Regions from separate parts of the Homo sapiens genome. Here region 1 is reported to be linked to region 2. Evidence: microRNA targets listed by miRTarBase, many of them from high-throughput screens and not tested one by one. Region 2 holds a microRNA gene; the other region holds the end of a gene's coding sequence.

Region 1 (7,096 bases), not on the chromosome of region 2:
TATAGACCTATTTTTAGATCCTGTTTCAAACAAAATAACTATAAAAAGACAATTCCATAAGAAGAAAAAAATAAACCCAAAGCTAGCAAAAGGAAATAAAATATTAGAGTAGAAATAAACAAAAGAGAATAGAAAGATAGTAGGAAAAAAAAACAGTTGGTTTTTGAAAAAAAAATCAACAAAATTGAGAAACTTAACTAGATTTAAAAAAAAGAAGATATAAATAAATCAGAAATGAAGAGGGGACATTATAACTGATGACACAGAAATAAAGAATTGTAAGAGAATAGCATGAACAACTGTATGCCAACAAATTGGATAACCTAGAAGATATGGATAAATTTCTAGACACACCCAGCCCACCAAGACCGAATCATGAAGAAACAGAAAATCTATACAGACCAATAGCTATTAAAAAGATTGAATCAGTCATCAAAAACCTCAAAGAGGCCGGGTACGGTGGCTCCCGCCTGTAATCCCAGCACTTTGGGAGGGGGAAGCGGCCAGATCACTTGAGGTCAAGAGTTTGAGACCAGCCTGGCCAACATGGTGAAACCCCGTCTCTACTAAAAATACAAAAATTAGCCGGGTGTGGTGGCGCGTGCCTGTGGTCCTGGCTACTTGGGAGGCTGAGGAAGGAGAATCGCTTGAACCTGGGAGGTGGAGGTTGCAGTGACCCAAGATCATGCCTCTGCACTCCAGCCCCGGCGACAGAGCAAGACCATGTCTCAGCATGCGCGCACACACACACACACACACACACACACACACACACACACACACACACACACTCAAAGAAAAACCTAGAACCAGATGGCTTCACTGGAGAATTCTACCAAACATTTAAAGAAGAATTAATACCAATCCTCCTGAAACTATTACAAAAGTTGAAGAGGAGGAACATTTCTAAATTTATTCTATGAGACCAATATTATCCTAATACCAAAGCCAGACAAATACACTACAAGAAAACTACAGAACAATAATATTCCTGGTGAATATTGATGCAAAAATCCTCAACAAAATACTAGCAAACTGAATTCAACAGTACATTAAAAGGGTTATATACTATGATCAAGTGGGATTTATTCCTAAAATGCAAGAATGGTTTAACATATAAAAATCAATCAATATAATACACCAAATTAACAGATTGAAGGGCAAAAACCACATGATAATCTAAATTGAGGCAGAGAAAGCATGACAAGATTCAACACCCTTTCATGATTAAAAAAACCAACAACTCAACAAATGCAAAATAGAAGAAAACTACCTCCACATCATAAAGCCCACATGTGAAGAGCCCATAGCTAACATCATATTCAATAGTGAAAGACTGCAAGCTTTTCCTCTAAGATCAGGAAAAAGGCAAGATGTCTGTTTTTGCCACTTCTACTCAACATAGTTTTGGAAGTCCTAGTCAGAGCAACTAGGCAAGAAAGAAATAAAAGGCATTCAAATTAGAAAGGAGAAGTAAAATGATCGATTCACAGATGATATAATCTTAGATGTAGGAAACCCTAAAGACTACACACACACACACACACACACACACACACACACACACACACAAACTGTTAGAACTAATAAATGAATTCAGCAAAGTTGCAGGATACAAAAAGCAACATACCAAAATCAGTTGCTTCTCTATACACTAAAAATGAACAATCCTAAATGGAATTTCAAAAAATTCCATATATAAAAGCATCAAAAAGAATAAAATACTTAGAAATAGGCCTAACTAAGGTGAAAGACTACACTGAAAACTACAAAACACTGTTAAAAAGAAATTAAAGAAGACACAAACAAATGGAAAAAACATCCTATGTTCATGGAGTGGAAGGTTCATATTGTTAAGATGTTCATACTACCCAAAGTGATTCACAGATTCAACACAATCCCTATAAAAATCCCAATAGCATTTCTTGCAGAAATAGAAAAATTTATCCTAAAATTCATATGGAATCTCAACAGACACCAAATAGACTAAAGTCTTGAAAAAGAAGAGCAAAGTTGAAAGACTCATACCTCCTGATTTCAAAACATATTGCAAAGCTGTGGTAATCAGAATAGCATGGTAATGACATAAAGACAGACATAGAGCAATGAGAGGATAGAACACCAAGAAACAAACTCTTGTGTATATGGTCAAATGATTTTCAACAAAGATGCCAAGATCTCTTGATGTTAGAAAAGGACAATTTCTTCAGAAAACAGTGCTGGGAAAACTGGATATTCACAGGCAAGAGAATGAAGTTGGACCCTTATCTTATACCATACACAAAAATTAATTCAATATGGGTTAAAGACCTAAACGTAAGACCCAAAACTATAACACTCCTAGAAGAAAACATGGGGAAAAAAGCTACGTGATATTGAACTTGGCAATGATTTCTTGGATATGATGCCAAAATAAAAGCAAAAATAGAGAAATGGGCCTGCATTAAACTTTAAAACTCTGTGCATCAAAGGTCACAATCAGTGAAAAGGCAATGTACAGAACTGAAGAAAATATCTGCAAATTACGTATCTGATAAGGGGTTAATGTCCAGAATATATAAAGAACTCCTACATCTCCACAACAATAAATTAAATAACCTGATTTAAAGATAGGCAAAGGACTTGAATAGACATTTCTCCAAAGAAGGTATACAGGTGGCCAACAAGCCCATGAAAACATGCTCAACATGGATAAACAAAATGTGGCATGAAAATACAAGAGTATTACTGTAGTCCAGCCTTAAAAAGGACAGAAATCCAGTCACGTGCCACAACCTTAAGGTCATTATACTAACTGAAATAAGCCCGCCACAAAAAGACAAAAACTGCATGATTTCACTTATACGAGGTATCTAAAGCAGTCAAATTCATAGAAACAGAAAGTAGAATTGTGGTCACCAGGGGCTGGAGGAAGGGGGAAATGGAGCCTTGTTGCTCAATGGGTATATAGATTTGCAAGATGAAAAAGTTCTACAGATCAATTAGATCAATTTCACAACAATGTGAATATACCTAACACTGTTGAACTATTCACTTAAAAATGGTTAAGATCAACAACAACAAAAAGAACAAAAAAAATGGTTAAGATAGTAATTTTTTTGCCACAATAAAAAATATAGTTGAGATAATCAGGAAAAACTAAACACTAACTCTTCACACAGTTAACTGCATTTGAATTCTGTACTCATTTGTGACAGATACAGCTACTTAATACTCAGAGAGTGGAAAGAACACTTCTTTAAAGAGGTCAAAAATCTGGCTACTAGCCCCAAATCTCCTAACTAGCTATTAGATGATATTCAAGAATCACTGTTAATTTCATTGGATATGATAATGACACTATAGCTATGCTTTTTGAAAAAGGATTCATACTGAAGTAATTTTGGGGTAACATTATGTTTTCTATGATTTACCTTAATATACTCCAGCCAAAAAATAAAGAGTACAGGTGGGGCAGGGGTAGCTGAGAAAGGATGGCAGAGTGGTCTCGTCATGCTTGTTAAAGCTGGGAGAGAGGTACATGTACGAAAAGTTTAAAACAAACCAAACAAAACACGAGGGGAAGAAAAGCATGGATGGGTATTTGGAAGGAATGGCAGCAGGATCAATTTATTGAGATTTTGTGACAGCATCATATACTACAGACACTATTGCTGATTTTCAAAAAGCATTGCATTTCAATTTGCATCTAACAGATTAAAAATAAAGAAACAAATGAAATTGAAAGAATGATCAAGCTTCAAGTAACGTTTCTCACCACCTCCCCCGGCCACAAACAAACAAAAAGGTCCATGGTTTAAGAATGTTGAACAAAGGGACTAAAGGTGTCATGGAGACCTGCCCACCAGGGCCAGAATCTGGACAGTGATGGAGAAATTTCTGCTGCAAAAATGTCCGCCGCGTCAGGGAATACAAACCACATACGAGAGGGTGTTGATGTTGTTTCTCAGATACATAGGATGGACCTGTTTTCTTTCTGCTAATAGAAAGCAATCAGTCAAGCAAGGACTTCAGAGTGGATGAAGGGTACATAAGACCACACAATGATGGCATTCAAGAGAAAGAAAAGAGGTAAGGATGCAAAATTAAAAAAAAAATAGGACTTAATGAAAGCTAATTTCATCAAGCCCAGGTCACTGATGAGAAAGATGTAAAATCAAGAAACCAGTGAAATAACACGTAACAGGTGAGTCAAACATTACCAGCCGCATCAAACAGTGGAAGTGAAATGGCACCATCTAGCCCACCTGGTGAAATCCAAAGCGAGAACTTAAAGGGAGTAAGGATGATTCACAAAATGCGGTCGGGACACAAGAAAAGTGAGTTTGGAAGGACAGTGAAGAGAGAAAAAAGAATAAGGAAACCACCAAAATTTCAACTCAAAGATACATTTTAAACTGCATGGTATGGCCCACTGTCAATACCGTGGCTGCCTGGGAACAAAAAGGGTGGTCTCCAGATCCCCCAGAACCCCACTATACACCAGGAGGACAAGGAGGAAAGGAAGAAACCCCCTTTGCCTGCCAGAATGCACATGAGGGAAGGAAGGCAAACCCCTAGCAGTTGCTGCTTTGACACATCACCTGCCCCAGCAGCAGGCAGCTCGCTACCCACTCACATTCCCCAGGACTGGCTGCTCCATGAATCCTCTGGGCACCTGTGCCCAACAGAGTTCCTTAGCAAGCTCCACTGGAACGTTGAAAAATTAACATTGAGTGTTTACTGTGCACGCTGTGCCATGTGGAACTCATGCACAAGGCTTGATGGATCCCTCCTGACAAAACAATCTTGAGGTAGATACGATAATTATCCCCATTTTAGGGTTGATGGAAACCAAGGCTGAGTGAGGGAAAGTCACCCACCCAACGCTGCCCTATGAGTGAGCAGCAGGGTTAGCCTCTCCAGTCAGAGCGAGTGTCTTCACTCCCCATTGGAGGAAGACTTTCCATCACAAGCCTAAATCACCCAGCAGGAAACCAGCCCAGCCCTGTCTTCTCAGTGAGGCCTTTTCTAACACGGGTGCTTATCTCCATCTCAGGATCAAAGGATCTATTGCTTCTGGCAAAAGGGCAAAAGCACCGCTTTTACTGGGAGGTACAAGACCTGGTTTCTAGCCCCAAATCTCCTACATATCTTGTCATACTGCCTGTGCCCTATCTCTCTTTGCCTTGGTTTCCTTATCTCCAAATAGGGAAAAGCAGCCTGTCCCCAGTGAGCTCCCCGAAGGGTTGTATAAAATGAGACAAGGGAGGCAAAGCCCTCTGAATTCCTAAGCAGCCATGTTCTCACCATCACCGACCATGGCGCCCACCGTTCTTCTCCCCTGACCTTGCCCCCAAAGGCCCAGGAGCACAGACAGTTAAATAGCATCCCTCAAGGCCTGGAACAGGAGGAGCTTTGCATTCCAGTAGATTTTGCTGATGCCCTCAATAGAGGTGATCCTGATAGAATCAGAGGAAAAGAAAATATTCTTCTCTAGCAGCCAGAGGGCCCTTCCATCTTGCCTGTTCTCCCAAATTACCTGGCAACACTACCCCTTCCCCAGAAAGGCTCTGGATCAATGATTCTGGAAACCACTTAAGTCCTAAAGACAATTTTAAAACACCAGGAGAAAAATGCTCCTGCTCCTCCCCGCCCCACCTTCTAGAGGTATGCCTTTCTAGCAACCCCGAGGGGAGGTTCATCCCTGGGAGCTCTGCAGGAGAAGGTCCCCATTCCACATCATCTGGAAAATAGAGGGGAGTGCTAATATATGTGACCTTAGTGATCTCACAAGTGCATCAAAAAAAGCAACTGGCCAAGGAAATAGTTAAACCAGCCTGAACATGCCAGGCAGGCCCACCATAAGTCACTGTTTGAGTCAGGCTTGTGACCAAGGGTGTGTAGGCAAGGATGAGTGGGCAAGGCTGGAGGGGAAAAGCAGGCAAACCACTCTGAAGCAGGATGGAGGGTCGAGGACAAGGGCAGGGCAGAGGTGCACAGGGCAGGGCCAGTTCAGGGAGACCGCTGCAGGATGAGCTCTGTGATCTCGGCCCTGCTACCCAGCCTCATGGGTATCCCGTAGTAGGCTGTGCCTGGGCTGACATACACGAATGTAGCCTGGGCCACCTGGTAGAGACCAGCAAAGAAGGGATTCAGGAGATAGGCTGCTACGTTCAAGGGGAAGATCTGCCCAGCATGTGTGTGCCCAGAAAGGATCAGGTTAATATCTGGCCGAGCCTGGAGAGCTCTCTTGGCAGCCAGGGGCTGGTGAGCTAGCAAGATGATTGTGTGGTCTGGGCTGCAGCCCTCCAGGGCCTTGTCAAGATCCATGCCATGGCCAGAGTAGTGCAGGATGTCTGCTTCAATATCGTCCACCCCAGCCAAGCAGATCCAGTCCTCATCCTCACTCCCACTGCCACTGCCACCACCACCACGTTGGGCCCGTGTGGCGGAAATCTTCACGTTCTCATTATGAAGAGGCTGGACATGCAGGGATTCCAGAAGTGCAAACCAGTTGCTGACATCTGACGTGTAGTACTCATGATTGCCTGTGACGAAGTAGGCACCGAGATGTGAATGAAGCTGGCCCAGAGGAGCGACAGCCGTCCGCAGGACCGAGGCTTCTGAGTCGGAGAGGTCACCCACAATCACCGTGATGTCTGGTTCCAGCACATTCACCATCCTCACAAACATTTCCATCTTGGTCCTGCCCACTGTGGGGCCCAAGTGAATGTCTGAGAGGAGCACGATCTTGAGGTTGTTCATTGAGGCAGGCAGCTGATGGATGGGCACCTCCACAGTTTTCACAGCCGGGGGCTGCGCGGCATTCAGAATCCCGGCCACGCTGAGCACAGCAGTCACTCCCACTGCCAGGGCAGGCCTGAGCACGAGCTTCCTTGTCTTCTCAAGGCTGCCCACGACCCTACCACTGCGCCAGGCCAAGAGCTGGTAGGCCTGCTCCATGCCGCTGAGGATGAAGAGGAAGAAGAGCATGATGATGTAAGCACCCAGGCAGGAGTAGGCCGCCAAGGAAAAGAGATAGGGCTCTTCGGCCACTAAAAAGAACATGGTAAAGAAACTGGAATGGGCCAGGGCCAGAAATGCCAGAACCACC
Region 2 (7,118 bases):
AAATTGGTGGCTTATAAAGGATTCAAATGCTTTTCAAAGAATGAGTACCTCTTCAGCCAATGAAGAAAAAAATGAGCTTTCATATTTGAGACAGAAAATATGTTGTCAGCAGGTTGGGATCTGAGTAGTAGGAGGGGATTTGGAAAGGCCTAAAAAGAAGGCTTGAAAACGAGGAGGAGGGAATAATAAATAATAACTTGTAAACTGATATAAGCATCAAGAAAGAAAAAGGTTCTGTAAAAACTTAATACTCTGCAGCAGAGAATAAAAACATAGCCACACTGAAAACCTGGTTTTCATTTTTGTCAGGCAACTTTGTAAAAATAGGTATCAATCCCAGGAAAAGATATCCCAGGAAAAAATAAAAACAAGAAAAGGCGTTTTTCCAGGACCTTTAGTTCCTAGGACTTACCTCTGCAAATTTACATAAGATGATTCCATGAGATAGTCCAGCAGGGTGGCGGAGGTGTGTGAACAGCATAGATGTACTCTATGGAAAACAGCTCTCTGCATGCAACTAATCTTCCCTCAAGTGCACCCATAGTTATATTACATATGCTGCATATGTCACGTGTTACACCACTCGTAGAGGTTTCAATCATATGTCATTACCATATGTGATTGCTACTCTCTCGAGTAAGGCCCCGCAGACAGCATGTCTAAGGATGGAAGCCCTGCTTAAACACCCATTCATGTACCTTTTAAAAAGCTACGCAATGTTTTCAGGCTGTGAGTGGCTACCAGTATTTGTTCAAAGTACCTCTACAGTGAACACTCCACTGTTTTTTTTCCTCATCCATTCTTCCCTGAAGTGCTGTCCACTTGTGTGTTGAAGTTTTCACATGGTAGTTTTCAGAACTGAGGAGCAATAAGCCTCTTTGTTTGGTTGTTTGAGACGGAGTCTCACTCTGTTGCCCAGGCTGGAATGTGGTGGTGCAATCTTGGCCCACAGCAACCTCCGCCTCCCAGGTTCAAGCAATTCTCCTGCCTCAGCCTCCCGAGTGGCTGGGATTACAGGTGCCCACCACCACACCCAGCTAATTTTTGTATTTTTAGTAGAGACGGGGTTTCACTATGTTGGCTAGGCTGGTGTCCAACTCCTGACCTCAAGTGATCTCCCGCCTTTGCCTCCCAAAGTGCTGGGATCATTAAGCCTTTCTCTTATGTTCTCTTGCATATATAAGACGTACCCCTGTGTGTCTTGTCCTGGTTTTTTTTATCCATTATTATATATAAAGCATTAACAAATCATTTGTCTTCTTTAGACCCAATAATTAAGCAGTAAATACACTCCATCTCACCACTCTTGCCTTGTCACCCAAAGATCTGAGTCCTTTTATCTGAGTTATGTTCCTCAATTTCTGAATCACAGAATGAGCAGATAAAAAAGACCAGATTGGCCAGGCGAAGTGGCTCATGCCTGTAATCCCAGCACTTTGGGAGGCCGAGGTGGGCGGATCACGTGGTCAGGAGATCGAGACCATCCTGGCTAACACGGTGAGACCCAGTCTCTACTAAAAATACAAAAAAATGAGCCGGGCGTGGTGGGGGGCACCTGTAGTCCCAGCTACTCAGGAAGCTGAGGCAGGAGAATGGTGTCAACCCAGGACATGGAGCTTGCAGTGAGCCGAGATCGTGCCACTGCACTCCAGCCTGGGTGACAGAGCGAGACTCGGTCTCAAAAAAAAAAAAAAAAAAAAAAATTAGTGTGATGGCAGCTACCTGTAGTCCCAGCTGCTGGGGAGGCTGAGGCAGGAGAATGGCATGAACCCAGGAGGTGGAGCTTGCAGTGAGCCAAGATCGCGCCACTGTACTCTAGCCTGGGTGACAGAGCAAGACTCCATCTCAAAAAAAATGAAAAAAAAAAAAAAAAAAAGACCAGATCAACTAAGTAAATAACAAGATAATAATCAGTAGGTTCAGTAGGTAGTGGAATGGAAGGAGTAAAAACTCATTTTTCTTTCCAGACTCCGTAATCGAAAAAGCTCATTTTACATACCAGCAGTGATCAACGAGACAGAAAATGGTCTTGGTATCTTGGGATGTTCTTATATTTCTTTTTGTTCCTGAGTTTTCTGAGCATTTTCCTGGAACAAGATAGTTTAAAGTTTTTTTTTTTTTTACACTTTTCCATTCAGTAACATAGCATGAGCATGGCCTCAGAAAGGTGAAACACCAGAGTCATACCAAAATATGCCTAATGGAAATAGCATTAGGACAGGAGAGAGAAAACCAGAAAAAAATAGTGTTGAAAGAAATAATGCTAAAAACTTCAAATTTCATAAAAAACATAAATGTACACATCAAAAAAGTGAGATAAGCATGAAGATATCCAGACTTAAAGACATTGTATTCAATCTGTTAATGGAGAGAGAGAGAGAGAAAGAGAATGTGTAAAAGAAAGAATACCTTTATAGCTGCAAGAGAAAGGGAGCATATTTCATACAAGTGATTCTTACAAGATTTAACACTGACTTCTTTTGAGAAACCATGGAAGCTGGAATCAGTTGTAGAACATATTCAAAATGCTGAAAGAAAAACACAGTTAACCATGAATCTCACATCTAAGTCTAAAAGTTGTTAGATACAGCATTAAAAGCATAATGCATACATTGAAAAACTGTTAAGTCGTACTTTATCAAAATTGAAAACATTTGCTCTGCACAAAATACTGTTGAAAATGAAAAAAACAAAACAGATTGAGAGATAATATATGTAAATCATAATTCTGGCCAAGAAATTGTATGCAGTATACCTATATATCTCTATCTATATGTATATAGTAAACCTCAAAGATAAGTGAACAACTCGGTAAAGGTGAGAAAAATCCCAAAGGCACTTCACCAAGGAAGATACATGAATGGTAAGTAAGTACATGTACAGGTGCTCAACATTTTCCGTCAGTAAGGTGATGCAAATTAAAACCACAACTGACAAGGGAACTATACACATATTAAAATTGCTAATAAAAACAAAACAAAGGCTTTTCAATACAAAATGCTGATAAGAAGTTGGGTAATTGGATCACTAATACATTGCTTAATGCAGCACAAAATGGTAAAACCATTCTGGAAATTATTTTTTAATTAATTTTAAATGTAAACTTACACTTGCCATGTGACCTTCAAATCCTACTAGTAGCAGTTTACACAAGGAAAATGAAACTTGTGTTCATATATACATCTGTATGCAAATATACAAAGTAGCTTTATTTTTAGCCATGAATAACTGGAATAAAACCTAGATGTCCACCTGTGACTTCTACCCTACTTGATTAAAAAAAAAAAAAAAACAGATTATTCTTGCTCTAATTCTGACTCTCATTCTCTCTCCTTTACCCATTTTCTGCTTCCATACACCCTCTCTCATCACTGAATGAGAAAGAAACAACATAAAGGAAGTAAATGAAAACCTAGAGATAAAAAATGTTTTTAAGTAAATGCAAAAAAATCAAACAATAAAAAATTCTCAGCATTATTCACAATTCCTGATATATGACTTACTAATAATAGATTAAAATATATTTACAAAAGAACGAATATGTACTTTATTAGCACATGAAGAAAGAGGACATTTTATATCTGAGATAGAATATATTTTGATTTTCAGAAGGTTAAGTGTTTAAGAAGCAGGAGGGAATTTTGGAAAGCTTAAGAAGACTTGAAAATGAGAAAGGAAGCTAACAGTTAACAGATTTGGATGTTGGAGTAGGCAATAGTTTCTGCAAAAAGAATAATACTCTTAAGGCAGAAAGAAACTGTAAAATGGCAAGATAAACCTTGGTTCAATCAGGCAACATCATAGAAATGGAAATCAATCTCAGAAGAACTCAATGGGAGGCTTGTTGCAAGGACCTTAAATTCCTAGATCACGTGTCTGGTGGTCAGGCACCTGAGAGAGTTTTCTGAGGTAGTCCAGCATGGAAGTGGAGGGTTTGTGAGGGTAAAATACCTGCACTGTAAGGAAAGCATCCCTCTGCATGCAACTAAATGCCTCCAACACACACACAGTGTCATCATGTATGTTGCACGTGTCATGCAGTACTCTACCCACAGACGTACCAATCATTTTTAATTATACATGATTGCCACTGTCTGCAGTAGGGTACCACACACAGCATGTCTGAGGATGGCAGCCTTGCCTTAATACCCACCCATTCACCTTTAAAACAACCATTCAATATTTACAAGCTGTGCGTGGCCATTGGAATTTGGACGAAGGACTTCTGCAGAATTCAATCCACTATCTTTCCTTATATTTCCCGCTTTGAGTCCTGTCCACTCCCACGTTGCATCTTTCACATGACAGTTTTCAGAACTGAGAAATATTAAACATTTCTGTTAGGTTCTGTTACTCACAGAAGAAATATCCTTGCATGTCTTATCCTGTTCCTTATAATAGATTAAAATGTATTTACAAAAGAACGAATATGTACTTTATTAGCACATGAAGAAAGAGGACTTTGTATATCTGAGATAGAAAATATTTTGATTTTCAGAAAAGTTAAGTGTTTAAGAAGCAGGAGAGAATTTTGGAAGGCTTAAGAAGACTTGAAAATGAGAAAGGAAGCTAACCATTAATAGATTTGGATGTTGGAGCAGGAAACAGTTTCTGCAAAATGAATAATACTCTTAAGGCGTAAAGAAACTGTATAATGGCACAATAAACCTTGATTCAATCAGGCAGCATCATAGAAATGGAAATCAATCTCAGAAAAACTCAATGGGAGGCTTGTTGCAAGGACCTTAAATTCCTAGACCATGTGTCTGATTAGGCACCTAAGAGAGTTTTTTGAGGTAGTCCAGCATGGAAGTGGAGGGTTTGTGAGGGTAAAATACCTGCACTATAGGGAAAGCATCCCTCTGCATGCAACTAAATGCCTCCAACACACACACAGTGTCATCATGTATGTTGCACGTGTCATGCAGTACTCTACCCACAGACGTACCAATCATTTTTAATTATACATGATTGCCACGTCTGCAGTAGGGTACCACACACAGCATGTCTGAGGATGGCAGCCTTGCCTTAATACCCACCCATTCACCTTTGAAACAACCATTCAATATTTACAACCTGTGAGTGACCATTGGAATTTGGACAAAGGACTTCTGTAGAATCCAATCCACTATCTTTCCTTATGTTTCCTGCTTTGAGTGCTGTCCACTCCCATGTTGCAGCTTTCACATGACAGTTTTCAGAACTGAGAAATATTAAACATTTCTGCTAGGTCCTGTTACTCACAGAAGAAATATCCTTGCATGTCTTATCCTGTTCCTTATAATAGATTAAAATATATTTACAAAAGAACGAATATGTACTTTATTAGCACATGAAGAAAGAGGACTTTGTATATCTGAGACAGAAAATATTTTGATTTTCAGAAAGTTAAGTGTTTAAGAAGCAGGAGGGAATTTTGGAAGGCTTAAGAAGACTTGAAAATTAGAAAGGAAGCTAACCGTTAATAGATTTGGATGTTGGAGAAGGAAATAGTTTCTGCAAAATGAATAATACTCTTAAGGCAGAAAGAAACTGTAAAATGGCAAGATAAACCTTGGTTCAATCAGGCAACATCATAGAAATGGAAGTCAATCTCAGAAGAACTCAATGGGAGGCTTGTTGCAAGGACCTTAAATTCCTAGATCACGTGTCTGGTGGTCAGGCACCTGAGAGAGTTTTCTGAGGTAGTCCAGCATGGAAGTGGAGGGTTTGTGAGGGTAAAATACCTGCACTGTAAGGAAAGCATCCCTCTGCATGCAACTAAATGCCTCCAACACACACACAGTGTCATCATGTATGTTGCATGTGTCATGCAGTACTCTACCCACAGACGTACCAATCATTTTTAATTATACATGATTGCCACTGTCTGCAGTAGGGTACCACACACAGCATGTCTGAGGATGGCAGCCTTGCCTTAATACCCACCCATTCACCTTTAAAACAGCCATTCAATATTTACAAGTTGTGGGTGGCCATTGGAATTTGGACAAAGGACTTCTGCAGAATCCAATCCACTATCTTTCCTTATGTTTCCTGCTTTGAGTGCTGTCCACTCCCATGTTGCAGCTTTCACGTGACAGTTTTCAGAACTGAGAAATATTAAACATTTCTGTTAGGTTCTGTTACTCACAGAAGAAATATCCTTGCATGTCTTATCCTGTTCCTTTTCACATTGCTACTTGCAAAGCATTAACTACCAGTTTGCATTCTCCATATCCATTAATTAAGTAGTAAATAATCCTCCATCTCATCAATCTCATATGATAAGGTTTGGCTCTGTGTCCCCACCTAAATTTCATCTTGTAGCTCCCATGATTCCCATATGCTGTGGGAGGGACCCAGTGGAAGATGATTGAATCATGGGGGCAGGTCTTTCCTCTGCTGTTCTCATAATAGTGACTAAGTCTCATGAGATCTGATGGTTTTAAATATGGGAGTTTTCCTGCACAAGCTCTCTATCTTTGCCTGTCGCCATCCATGTAAGATGTGACATGCTCCTCCTTGCCTTCTAACATGATTGTGAGGCTTCCCCAGCCACATGGAACTATGAATTCTCCATTAAACCTCTTTCCTTTGTAAATTGCCCAGTCTTGGGTACGTCTTTATCAGCAATGTGAAAATGGGCTAATACAGTAAATTGGTACCAGTAGAGTGGGACACTGCTGAAAAGATACCTGAAAATATGGAAGCGACTTTCGAACTGGGTAACAGGCACGGGATGAAACACTTTGGAGAGCTCAGAAGAAGACAGGAAAATGTAGGAAAGTTTGGAACTCCCTAGAGACTTGACTTGTTGAATGGCTTTGCCCAAAATGCTGATAATGATATGGACAATGAAATCCAGGTTAAGGTAGTCTCAGATGGAGATGAGGAACTTGTTAGAAACTGCAGCAAAGGTGACTCTTTATGTTTTAGCAAAGAGACTGGCAGCATCTTGCCCCTGCCCTAGAGATCTGTGGAACTTTGAACTTGAGAGAGATGATTTAGGGTACCTGGCAGAAGAAATTTCTAAGCAGCAAAGCATTCAAGAGGTAACTTGCATGCAGTTAAAGGCATTCCATTTTATAAGGGAGGCAGAGCATAAAAGATTGGAAAATGTGCAGCCTGACAATGCT

Evidence for each region. The annotated mature microRNA hsa-miR-509-3-5p reads UACUGCAGACGUGGCAAUCAUG and lies in region 2 at 4,967-4,988, opposite strand. An mRNA with a match to its seed (bases 2 to 7 or 8) in the 3' UTR can be bound and repressed. Matches are read on the target gene's strand: a 7mer-m8 pairs with bases 2 to 8, a 7mer-A1 pairs with bases 2 to 7 and ends in A, and an 8mer does both.
Region 1: miRTarBase lists TMPPE as a target of hsa-miR-509-3-5p. The part of its 3' UTR that is shown has no 7-base or 8-base seed match.

What each region holds. Positions count from the first base shown.
Region 1 is chr3:33,086,840-33,093,935 of GRCh38, forward strand. TMPPE (transmembrane protein with metallophosphoesterase domain) reads right to left here. Exons shown (of 2, transcript NM_001039770.3): 2 at 3,583-7,096. The coding sequence ends at 5,995. All of the region lies in intron 1 of GLB1 (galactosidase beta 1), which reads right to left. Among named protein-coding and RNA genes, the nearest start is that of GLB1, 6.8 kb to the right of the region's middle.
Region 2 is chrX:147,254,730-147,261,847 of GRCh38, forward strand. MIR509-3 (microRNA 509-3) reads right to left here and starts at 4,997; the gene lies at 4,923-4,997. It overlaps MIR509-2 (microRNA 509-2), which reads right to left and starts at 4,121; the gene lies at 4,031-4,121. It overlaps MIR509-1 (microRNA 509-1), which reads right to left and starts at 5,896; the gene lies at 5,803-5,896. All of the region lies in intron 2 of LOC105373347 (periphilin-1), which reads left to right.